2 separate regions of the Homo sapiens genome follow, and region 2 is linked to region 1. Evidence: fine-mapped QTL for protein levels in blood plasma. Region 1 holds a variant in brackets. A gene starts in the other region. All regions are shown on their reverse strands.

The links. A credible set is the group of variants that fine-mapping cannot tell apart. PIP is the posterior inclusion probability: the model's chance that the variant is causal. Protein levels are from antibody-based Olink assays in UK Biobank. Linkage for the fine-mapping came from a reference panel and not from the study's own genotypes, which makes the PIPs less certain.
Region 2: it holds the start of TIE1, and the variant in region 1 is the best candidate, but not a certain one, in a credible set for the plasma level of the TIE1 protein (UK Biobank, PIP 0.66).

The regions. Positions count from the first base shown.
Region 1 is chr16:93,522-98,855 of GRCh38, reverse strand. NPRL3 (NPR3 like, GATOR1 complex subunit) reads left to right here. Exons shown (of 14, transcript NM_001077350.3): 9 at 555-711. Among named protein-coding and RNA genes, the nearest start is that of MPG, 18 kb to the right of the region's middle. The variant T/C (reference allele first, on the strand shown) is at 4,426.
Region 2 is chr1:43,297,917-43,303,292 of GRCh38, reverse strand. It overlaps TIE1 (tyrosine kinase with immunoglobulin like and EGF like domains 1), which reads right to left and starts at 2,311. Exons shown (of 23, transcript NM_005424.5): 1 at 2,164-2,311. The coding sequence starts at 2,221. RefSeq lists an enhancer at 2,252-2,341 and a silencer at 2,372-2,471.

The DNA of each region.
Region 1 (5,334 bases):
AGTGATTCTCCTGCCTCAGCCTGCCGAGTAGCTGGGACCCCAGGTGGGTGCAACCACACCCGGATAATTTTTTTATTTTTAGTAGAGATGGGGTTTCACCATGTTGGCCAGGCTGGCCTCGAACTCCTGACCTCACGTGACCTGCCTGCCTTGGCCTCCCAGAGTGCCGGGATTATAGGCATGAGCCAGTCCTTGGCAGATTTTGTGAAGGCCTCCAAACAGACCACTGCCCTTTTCTCAAATCCCGCTCTTGGCCCTTCTCTCCGCAGTTAAGGGCCAGGAGGCTCCAGCTGCCTGTTTGTGTCCCAGGTGCATACCTGATGCACACCCGGTGCAGGACCTCGTGCAGGACCTGGTGCATACCTGGTGCAGGGTTCCCTGCACTTCGTATGTTCCGTGTGTTTGAGTCCCAGGTGCATACCTGGTGCATACCCGGTGCATACCTGGTGCAGGACCTGGTGCATACCCGGTGCATACCTGGTGCAGGACCTGGTGCATACCCGGTGCAGGGTTCCTGCACTTCGTGTGTTCCGTGACAGGTGATTGTTTTGCAGCCCCTACCATGCCCTGCTGCTGCTCAGTGATGAGAAGTCCTTGCTGGGTGAGCTTCCTATTGACTGCTCCCCTGCCCTAGTGCGGGTGATCAAGACCACATCTGCTGTGAAGAACCTGCAGCAGCTAGCCCAAGATGCGGACCTGGCCTTGCTGCAGGTATAGCTCTGGAGGCCCAGATGGGTGGCATGTGGCGGTGCTGGGGCATCAGGAAAGGCAGGCCGCCTGCCACAGTACATCCACAGGGGCTGTGTCCAGCTGAGAGCCGCGGCACAGCCCACCATGGGGTGGGGCCAGTCCCTGGGATGGCTGGAGGTTTTGGCATCTGAGTCAGACCTGGGTTCAGGGCTGGCTTTGTGAGTGAGCCACGGGACTGACTTGTTCTTCTGTCTCAGAGAGGTAAGGCGAGTCTGTGAGAGAAAGGACTGGGGTGCTTGCAGTCCTGGAGGTTGAGGCACCAGAGCTAGGGGGTGGGCAGGGCAGCAGCGGGCAGGGCCATGGGGGTCTCACAGTGGTGCATGAACAACATACGGGAACTAAGGGCAGGAAGCTTGGATGCGGGGCCCTCCCATGTGCAGAACAGAGACCTAACCTGGTGGCCTTACGCCCCTGTGTGTGCACATGTGTTGGCCTGTGCACTCTGTACAAGATGCCACGTCCTTGCTGAGCCACATGCTTATGGGCCTGTCCATGCAGAGGGCTGCCCTTTCTGATTAGATGGAGGGCCCCTCAGCCTCGTCTGCGGATCTGGTTGGAGTGTGGGAGGAAAAGCGCAGGCAAGGCTGGGCACGGTGGCTCATGCCTGTCATCCTAGCCCAGGACTTTGAGACCAGCCTGAGCAACATGGCAAAACCCCGTCTCTACAAAAAATACAAAAAAAAAAAAAAAAAAAATAGCTGGGTGTGGTGGCGTGCACCTGTAGTCCCAGCTACTTGGGGGTATGAGGTGTGAGGATCAATTGAGCCTGGGAGGCAGAGGTTGCAGTTAGCTGAGATTGTGCCACTGTACTCCAGCCTGGGCGACTCTGTTTCCAAAAAAAAAAAAAGCACGGGGAGAAATCAGAAGCAGGGGCTGCTGATGGGGTGGCCAACAGGCCATGGGATCAGCTGTGGCTGCTAGTCATGTGGGCGTGGCCCAGAGCCACGGGACCATTGAAATACTGCCTGAGGGTGGGAGCAGGTGGTGCCTGTGGGTGGCGCCCTCGTCTGGTGGCGGTGTGCACAGCATGGCCACCAGGGGGCAGCAGAGGCTGCCGAGGAACACAGGCGTGAGGTGGGCCCGCCTGGGTCCCTCTGGCTGAGCTTCCATGCTCTTTTGGCCTGTGAAACAGGTCTCTGCTTAGCACGTTAGGGGAACTTGTCCAACAAGGCCTGACTCTCAGGCCACTTTTCCCCGAAAGCAGCCTTTTTGGATTCTGTCTTTGAGAGTAAGTCTCCCGCCTCTGTATCTCAGGACCCTTTATCTATCCTCTGTGAGAGCACTTACCAAATTGTGCCCTTGTATTTCTTTTTTCTTTTCTGAGACAGGTTCTTGCTCTGTCTCCCAGGCTGGCATGTGGTGGTGCCATCATGATCCACCCAGGCTCAAGCATCCTCCCAAGTAGCTGGGACTACAGGTGTGCGCCTGGCTAATATTTTTTTTTTTTTTTTTTTTTTGGTAGAGACGGGGTTTCCCTATGTTGCCCTGGCTGGCCTCATACTCCTGGGCTCAAGTGATCATCGCACCTTGGCCTCCTAAAGGGCTGGTATTACAGGCATGAGCCACCATGCCCAGCTGTGCCTTTGGACTTCATGGGCTGGACAGGACTCAGTAAACACCATGTCCTGCCCACCTTCATAGCATTCAGGAGACAGAGAATTTTAAAAGAACTCACCACTCCATACAACCCTGCAGAGTGAGGGAGGCAGTGACCCTCCGTGTCCTGATGAGCACCGACCACATGGTAAATGCCTGTGGCTGTTCACTGGTCCTGTGTTGAGCTTTTGAAAGGAGCTGGGCCTGGCTTTCCTGAGGCTGTCTGGCAGGAGTTTGTGCTGGACACTGTGCCTCTCATCCTTGCTGTCAGAGTCTCCTTGGACAAAGCTTTGATGCCCTCTTCTGAGGTTGTCTGGCAGGAGTTTGTGTGGACAGTGTGCCTCTCACCCTTGCTCTCAGAGTCTCCTTGGACAAAGCTTTGGTCTCCTTTTGATGTCCCCTTCACTTCCCTGCCGTGGCCTTGACTGGGGAGAGGGAAGGCTGTTTGTCATTGTTTTCTTCTGTCTGTACCCCTTCCCTGCTGTCCCTGCTGCAGGTCAGCAGGGCGTTGCTGCTGGTGTGGCGGTGCGGAAGCCCCTGGGGCCCAGCCCTGGTGGGTCACTCTGTTTCCGGAGATAGCCCCCTGGGGAGCACCTGCCTCAGGTGTGAATGTCACCAGATAGTTTAAAGTCCCTCATGTGGCTGGGTGCAGTGGCTCATGCCTGTAATCCCAGCACTTTGGGAGGATGAGGCAGGAGGATTGCCTAAGCCCAGGAGGTCACGACCAGCCTAGGCAACATAGGAAGACCCTGTCTTTACAGAAAATTAAATAATTAGCTGGGCATGGTGGTGTGTGCCCATGGTCCCAGCTACTCAGGAGGCTGAGGTGGGAGGATCACTTGAGCCCTGGTGTTCGAGGCTGCAGTGAATTGTGATTTTACACACTGCAGTCTGGGCAACAGAGCAAGACCCAGTCTCAAAAAATAAAATAAAATAAAATTCTTCATGTTTATATCAATCCAGAGAGAATCTACAAGTAAATTTTGGGTGTGTCATGATAAAATTAGTATGTTACAAGACTTCAAACACTACACAAATTATAGACACAGAAAGTTCCCACAGTCCCATATCCCACAGGTAACCTAGATCCCTCCAGGTTTTTTATCTGTATATATACATTTTATTGTGTGTGTGTGTGTGTGTGTGTGTGTGTGTGTGTATATATATATATATATATATATATACACACACAAACATTTTATTTTGTATTATGAAAATTAGGATCGTGCTGTATATTCGTTGTGATTGGCTGAATAATGGCCCCCACAGATATACACATCCTAATCCCCAAAATCTATGAATGTGAACTCATGTGGGACTTTGGAGATGTTACTAAGTAGAAGATCTTGAGATGGGAAGATCATCCTGTTGAGCTCTAAATGTAATCTCTAAGGCCCTTATCAGAGGGAGGCAGAGGAAGATCTGATAAAAAGAGGCAGCGATGTGGCCACAGAGACAGAGTGGAGTGACGTGACCGCAAGCCAAGAGACACTGGCCGTTGAAGAGGCAGGACGAATTCTCTTCTGGAGCTTCCAGAGGGAGCCTGGTCCTGCTGGCACCTTATGCTTGCCCTTAAGTACTGATTTTGGATTTTCAATTTCCAGAATGGACAGCATCTTGGAGAGGCTGCTGCAGGGAGAGGCAGGAGGTGGAGACCACTATGCTGAGCAGAGCTGGGGGAAAGTGGGGGTGTCTTTTTGAGAGAGACATGCGAGTGGCACGTGGGGTGAGGGAACAGGGCGGTGATGGAGCTGAAACCTGCCATGTCGGGGTTGGCGGAGCCATTGGGGGCACTACTCGCACAATCTTGGCTCACTGCAACCCCCACCTCCCAGGTGCAAGCAATCCTCCTGTCTCAGCCTCCAAGTAGCTGGGACTACAGGCATGTGCCGCAGTGCCTGGCTAATTAAATAAAAATTTTTGGCAGAGATGAGGGTCTCACTATATTGCCCAGGTTGGTCTCGAACTCCGAGGTTCAGGCGATCCTCCTGCCTTGCCCTCCCAAAATGCTGGGACTACAGGCATGAGCCACTCACTCAGTCTGGAGGCCCTGTTTTCTGAGCTGAGGTATAAGTGTCC[T/C]CAGCAGCAGGGCAGCACGGTGTCCAGGCAGGGGTGACTCACCTCCACAGAGGCCTACCCGCCAAGAGGGTGGAGTGGTGTCCTGGGCTGATGCAGAGGCAGAAGTGCGAGAGCTTAGGATTTCACACACCTTTTCGTGAAGTGCTGGGGTGCTGTGCTCTCAGACCTCAGGCCTGAGCTTTCCTCTGGAAGGGGTTTGGGTTGTGTTTGTGTTTCCTGATGTTCAAGGGTCCACAAGAGCAAAGCTGGGAGGGGGGTCTCTGTGGGAGTCGGGGCACATGGGGCAGACCTGGGGCCTTTGGGTATGTAGGGGTGGCATGCTGAGTGACTCCACACCCATCATCGGGCAAGGCCATGCTGGAGTTTTAGGGGGTATAAGAGGGCTGTGCCCCTGCCAGGACATCCAGCTAAGCCCCCTGCCCAGCTGGGCCAGCACTGTGTTCCCAGCACCCCAGACATTCCCATGCTTGTGGCCTGAGACCACCATTCTTCAGTGGGAGTCAAGACAGCATAGGATGGGAAAACAGTGCCACCAAACAGCACAGGGAGCAGTGACAAAAAGGCCATTGTGGCCGGGTGCGGTGGCTCATGCCTGTAATCCCAGCACTTTGGAAGGCCAAGGTGGGTGGATCACGAGGTCAGATCGAGACCATCCTGGCCAACATGGTGAAACCCTGTCTCTACTAAAAATACAAAAATTAGCTGGGCGTGGTGGCATGTGCCTGTAATCCCAGCTACTCAGGAGGCTGAGGCAGGAGAATCGCTTGAACCTGGGAGGCAAGAGGTTGCAGTGAGCTGAGATTGTGCCACTGCACTCCAGCCTGGGCGACAGAGCAAGACTGTCTCCAAAAAAAAAAAAAAAAAAACCATTGCTCACAGAAAGTGCTGTGTGCTGGCTGTGCCCCACAT
Region 2 (5,376 bases), not on the chromosome of region 1:
AACTCGGGAACGGTCTTTCAGCTTGGACCTGCATTTCCATCAGCTTTTCCCAAATCTGCTCCTCTCCAGTGCTCCCTGACTCACTGGACAGCACCCGCCACTTGAGACACAAACTATGGAGTCATCTCTACTCCCATTGTCATAATAATGAATGTTTATTGGCTGCCAGTTATGCACCAGGCACTTTACTGATATTGTTTCATTTTACCATCCCAGCTATCCTGGGAGGTGGATGTTATTATCCCTGTTTTATAGCCAGGAAAGGGAGGCTCAGAGAAGTTAAGTAACTTGCCCAAGGTCATACAATTAGTGAGTGGCAGGGCCAGGTTGTCTGATTCTAAAGTCCACATCTCTGAGCACTGTGCTGCCTGCCTCATCAGTCATAGAATTCTGCACATTGTTTCCTGAACGCTTCTTGACTTCATCCCCACCCCCCCAGCCTGCCTTTGTTCAGCCCTCATCCTTACTCACCTAGACCATCCCAACAGCCACAGCCCCTCCTTCTGCAACTCATCCTCCACGGTGATCTAAGACCAAACCTGACCTTGTGACTTTCTTGCCTGTGACCTCCCATGGCTCCCTATTGCCCTCAGGATAATGTTCGTGCTCCTAAGCCCCGTGATGCTCCCACGCTATCCCTCCTGTTGTGTTCCTAACAGGCACCTTCTCTCCCATGCACCTCCATGCCTCTGAGACTTGCATTTTTTATGTTCTGGCTGCCTGGAATGAAGACCACCCCTCTTAGTGAAATCTTCCTTGATTCCCTTTTTGTCTCCTACCTGAGGCAGTGTAAGCTGAACTCCTCCTCAGTGCTCCTCTAGAGCTCCTGTGTCTGTCCCTGTTTAGCCCTCTTCCCCTGTCCTGTGTTCTGCACTAGACCATGAACCACTCAAAGGCAGCCTCTGTGTTCTAATCGGCTGACCAGCAGACTGAAGGAATCAGCTGCCACCTACTCAGAAATCCTTACCAAGCACAGTGCACTGTGCCAACTGCTCTGCATCATTTTCTCATTTAAACCCCATAACAACCATAGGAGGCTGGCATCATTTAATCTCATTGTACAGACTAGGTGTTGCCAGCCTCTCAACTAATGGCCCAGCACTTAGCACAACTCCTGGAATATTGTTGGTGCTCAATAAATGTTTGTCCAGTGAACAACTGAGTGAATCCAACACAATTACCCTATGAACACCCCCTGAAAATGGCCCTCCACAGATCCTCAGATCCAACACAGTCAGCGGCTACTCCTCACTCCTCCCCTGATCCCAGGTTGCAGTGATTTCTAGCACTTGCCTGTGTTTTCCTGGCCTTGATCTCACTTTCTAGTGGATCAAAGTGATGGCAGTGATGATAGGGCTTGTTTTCCAAAATTTTTTGTTGTGGTGAAATGCATATAAAATAAATTTTACCATCTTTTTTTCTTTTTAGATGAGTCTTGCTCTGTCGCCCAGGCTGGAGTGCAGTGGCGCGATCTCAGCTCACTGCAACCTCTGCCTCCCAGATTCAAGCGATTCTCTTGCCTCAGCCTCCCAAGTAGCTGGGATTACAGGCTCCTGCCACCACGCCCGGCTAATTTTTGTATTTTTAGTAGAGATGGGGTTTCACCATGTTTGCCAGGCTGGTCTCGATCTCCTGACCCTGTGATCCACCCGCTCGGCCTCCCAAAGTGCCGGGATTACAGGCGTGAGCCACCACACCCGGCAAATTTTGCCATCTTAACCATTTGTAAGCAGCATATAACCCAATGTGATTAAATACATTCCTAGTGTTGTCCCACCATCACCACCATCCATCCTTTTTTTTTTTTTTTGAAAAAGACGAAAGTCTAAACACAATGGAGACGGGGTCTCACTATGTTGACCAGTCTGGTCTTGAACTCCTGGCCTCAATTGATCCTCCCATCTCAGCCATCCAAAGTGCTGGGATTACAGGTATGAACCACCGCACCCGGCCCCATGTTTATAACTCTTTTAATCTTGTAAAACCAAGTAAAAATCTTGTAAAAACGCTGTACCTTTTAAACAAAACTCCCCATTTCTTCCTCCCTGCAGCCCATGGCAACCATCATCCTACTTTCTGTCTCTATGATAAAATAGGGTTTCTTGGGTAGAAATCAGGGCCTCGGGGCCTAGAAATGGGGTGAGGGACTCAGGGGAGACTTACCCACATGAGAAGCCAAGAAGAGGATGGGGAGCAAGAAAGGGGGCACCCGCCAGACCATACTCCAGAGGCCGACCCAGGCCAGCCAGGACGAGCTGGGCCTGGGGTCAGATGCTGTGGGCCTGACTGCTCAGCCTGTGTTGGTCAGTGTGGGTCGGTGCTGGGGAGGAAGAGGAAATGAGGTGGCTTGGGTGGGAGGGGTGGCAGGGTAGGGGGTGGGAGGACTCATTCTGCCTTTGAGCCTCTAGGCCCCCCAATCTGGCCCCCACAAGGCTGGGGATGGGTGTGGCCTGGGAGGAGTCACTTGAGGTGGGGGGAAGGTTATGGTAAGGGCAGACCTGGGGACAGCTGGACTGATTTTTCCCATCCCCTGTCTCTCTCCAGTACTCAGTCTTGCTGGCACAAAGGAGGCAGGAGGCAGGAAAGGGAGGAAGCCAGTGGCTTCCGCCTATTGAGGAGGGGGGTGGGGTGGGGGACATTGTTCTGGGGTCTCCCCTCCCCCCGGCACAAACACACAATACGGCCCACATGAGTCCTCATGTATGTGCCCCAGGACACAGACAGTTACATGGGTTTCCTAGAGAGCAGTTCACATACGAAACACAAAGGACCTCTGTGGGCCTGAGAAGCACATACACTCAAAGGAACACAGGGCCCTGGCAACAAAGAGCCTTCGAGTCTACCTTGTGTACCTCTCTCATTGTACAGATGGGAAAACTGAGGCTTGCTGTGCTCGAGGGCACCCTGAGGCTGTGGCAAGGCTGGGACTTGAACTTCTGACTTAGTCCTTGCTTTCTTGGTGCCAATCGCTCCACAAGGGCTCACATTAAGCAGTCCCGGGGAGCACACAGGGAGTATCGGTTGCATAGATAGTCCTCAGCTTAAGCTGCTAATGAAAGCTTCAGCTTATTGTCTGCCAGGTGTCATTCATTTTGCGGCAAACCCCTGCCTATTCCTGGGCACTGGGGCAGCAGAAGTCTGCCCAGGGAGGTGCACTCACTCTTGACGGCTGACAACAACCTGGGAGCAGTCGCACTGCTTTGGCAAAGTCTCTAAAGCCCCATGGATCTTGCCTCTGCTTCCCTCCCAGACTCACCTCTCCCTGCCCTGGCACCCGTTGCTCCACCTCTTGCCACCACTGGCAGTTCCCAGAACGGAACAAGACCTGTAGGTACAGAACGCCCACGAGGAGGCCCTTCCAGGGAGCAGAGGGAGCAACCGTTGGATGGGCAGCCTTGCTGGTTAAATCGATGACCCCTCTGACCCGGAATGGAATGGTTGGGATGGATGAGACTTGGTGTCAGTTTAGGTGACTTAGGTCTGGTAGTACAAACCCTCCCCCTGGGCCTGGGACATCTTCCCAGAGTGTGTTCTGGGTGAAGGCTTCATTCTCCTCTGAATGCACCGGGCTCACATTCACTTTTCTCAGGAGGCTGGGTCCCTGCAGCTTGGTTGAGCTGGTTTAGGCCCAGGGCTCTTCTGAAGCGCCCTGAAAAGTCCCAGGAGACGCTTTGACTCCTGGAGTAGCATAGAAAAGGATCGGGAAAGACCTCCCTACTGATGTGTGACCCACAGAGATTCCCATTCCTGGGCCTGAGGCTGGGAGGAGCTTTCTCTAGACAAGGCTTTGGGTGGGATGGGAGTAGGAGCAGGGGGAGAGTGGTGGATGCCTTACACTTCAGCTCATCCTGGTGCCAGACCTTTGAATCTGGAATGAAAAAGGAGCTGGAAAGTGCTGGGACTGTTTGTATGGCAGGATTCACTTTTGTGGAACTTTTCCTTTGGTTCTTGGAAGACCTGGGGGGCCTGATGTCATTTTGCAAATGTGTGGAGAGCACTTAGGCAGCATTCATTCTTGTTGGAAGTGACACAGATATTGGCACAGGTATTTGCTTTGAATGGAAAAGTTTGAGACTGCAGGATGCTGGCACATGCAAAGATTCTGAGCCCATCTGCCCTCCCCACTCTCAACTGGGAAACAAAAACTGGTAATAATGATCTGTACATAAATAAAATGTTAATGGAGTTTGTACACAAGAATTTGTATTATAAAACAATATCCTACAAGTGTAAAAGTATTTTTACATGTGTTGAGATTATGCTGCAAGTAATTTAAATAGCATCAGTTTACAAACAATATGTCCCAAATGAAATATTACTGCACACACAAATTTTGAGTGGGTTGTGTATACATCTGCTGTTGCAGATGTATAAGACGACTTAAGCCATAATGCACATCTTGAAGTCTCAGTCACTCGAAAGTTATAGGCCAAAAATAATGCAAATATGAAGTTCTACACATTGGAGGGTTAACCTCCAAACCCAAAACAAACTGAATTGATAATGATAGAGTTAAACTCAAGGCGCCAGGTCAACTCAAGGTAATTTATTTTTTAACAGCCAAGCTCAGTGGCTCACACCCGTAATCCCAGCACTTTGGGAGGCCGAGGCGGGCATATCACTTGAGGCCAGGAGTTCGAGACCAGCCTGACCAATGTGGTGAAACCCCGTCTCTACCAAAAATACAAAAATTAGCCGGGCGTGGTGGCACGTGCCTGTAATCCCAGCTACTCAGAAGGCTGAGGTAAGAGAATCGCCTGAACCCGGGAGGTGGAAGTTGCAGTGGAGCCGAGATCGCGCCACTGCACTCCAGCCTGGGTGACAGAGCTAGACTCCCTCTCAAAAATAAAAATAAAAATAAAAAAACTCTTCCTCACTACCATACTCACTATCAGTTTGGCAGAAGTCTGGGAGTTTTATAACACACTGTCTTGGCAAGGTTGTGGGGAAATAGGCATGCTCTATATAGGCATGTTGATGTAATTCTGATGGAGGGCAACTTGGGAATATCTGTCAAATTCATGAACACACGTATCCTTGACTCACAATTGCATTCTTGGGAATTTATCCTGCAGATATACTCCCACAGTACAAAATGTCATGGTTATTCATTGTAGCATTATATGTAATGGCAGAAGATTAGGACCAATTCCTGTGTCAATCAATGGGGAAATGGTTAAATAAATTTTGATGTAGCTATACAGTAAAATATAACAGCTGTGAAATTAGTTGAAGAAACTCTCCAAGTCTATATACTGGTTTTTAAAAGCTCTCTAAGACATACTAATTAGTAAGTGATAAAAAGAAGGTACAGAAGTGTATATTGTATGTTAGCGTTTGCCTAAAAAAGAAAAAAATAGGAATATATATTCATAC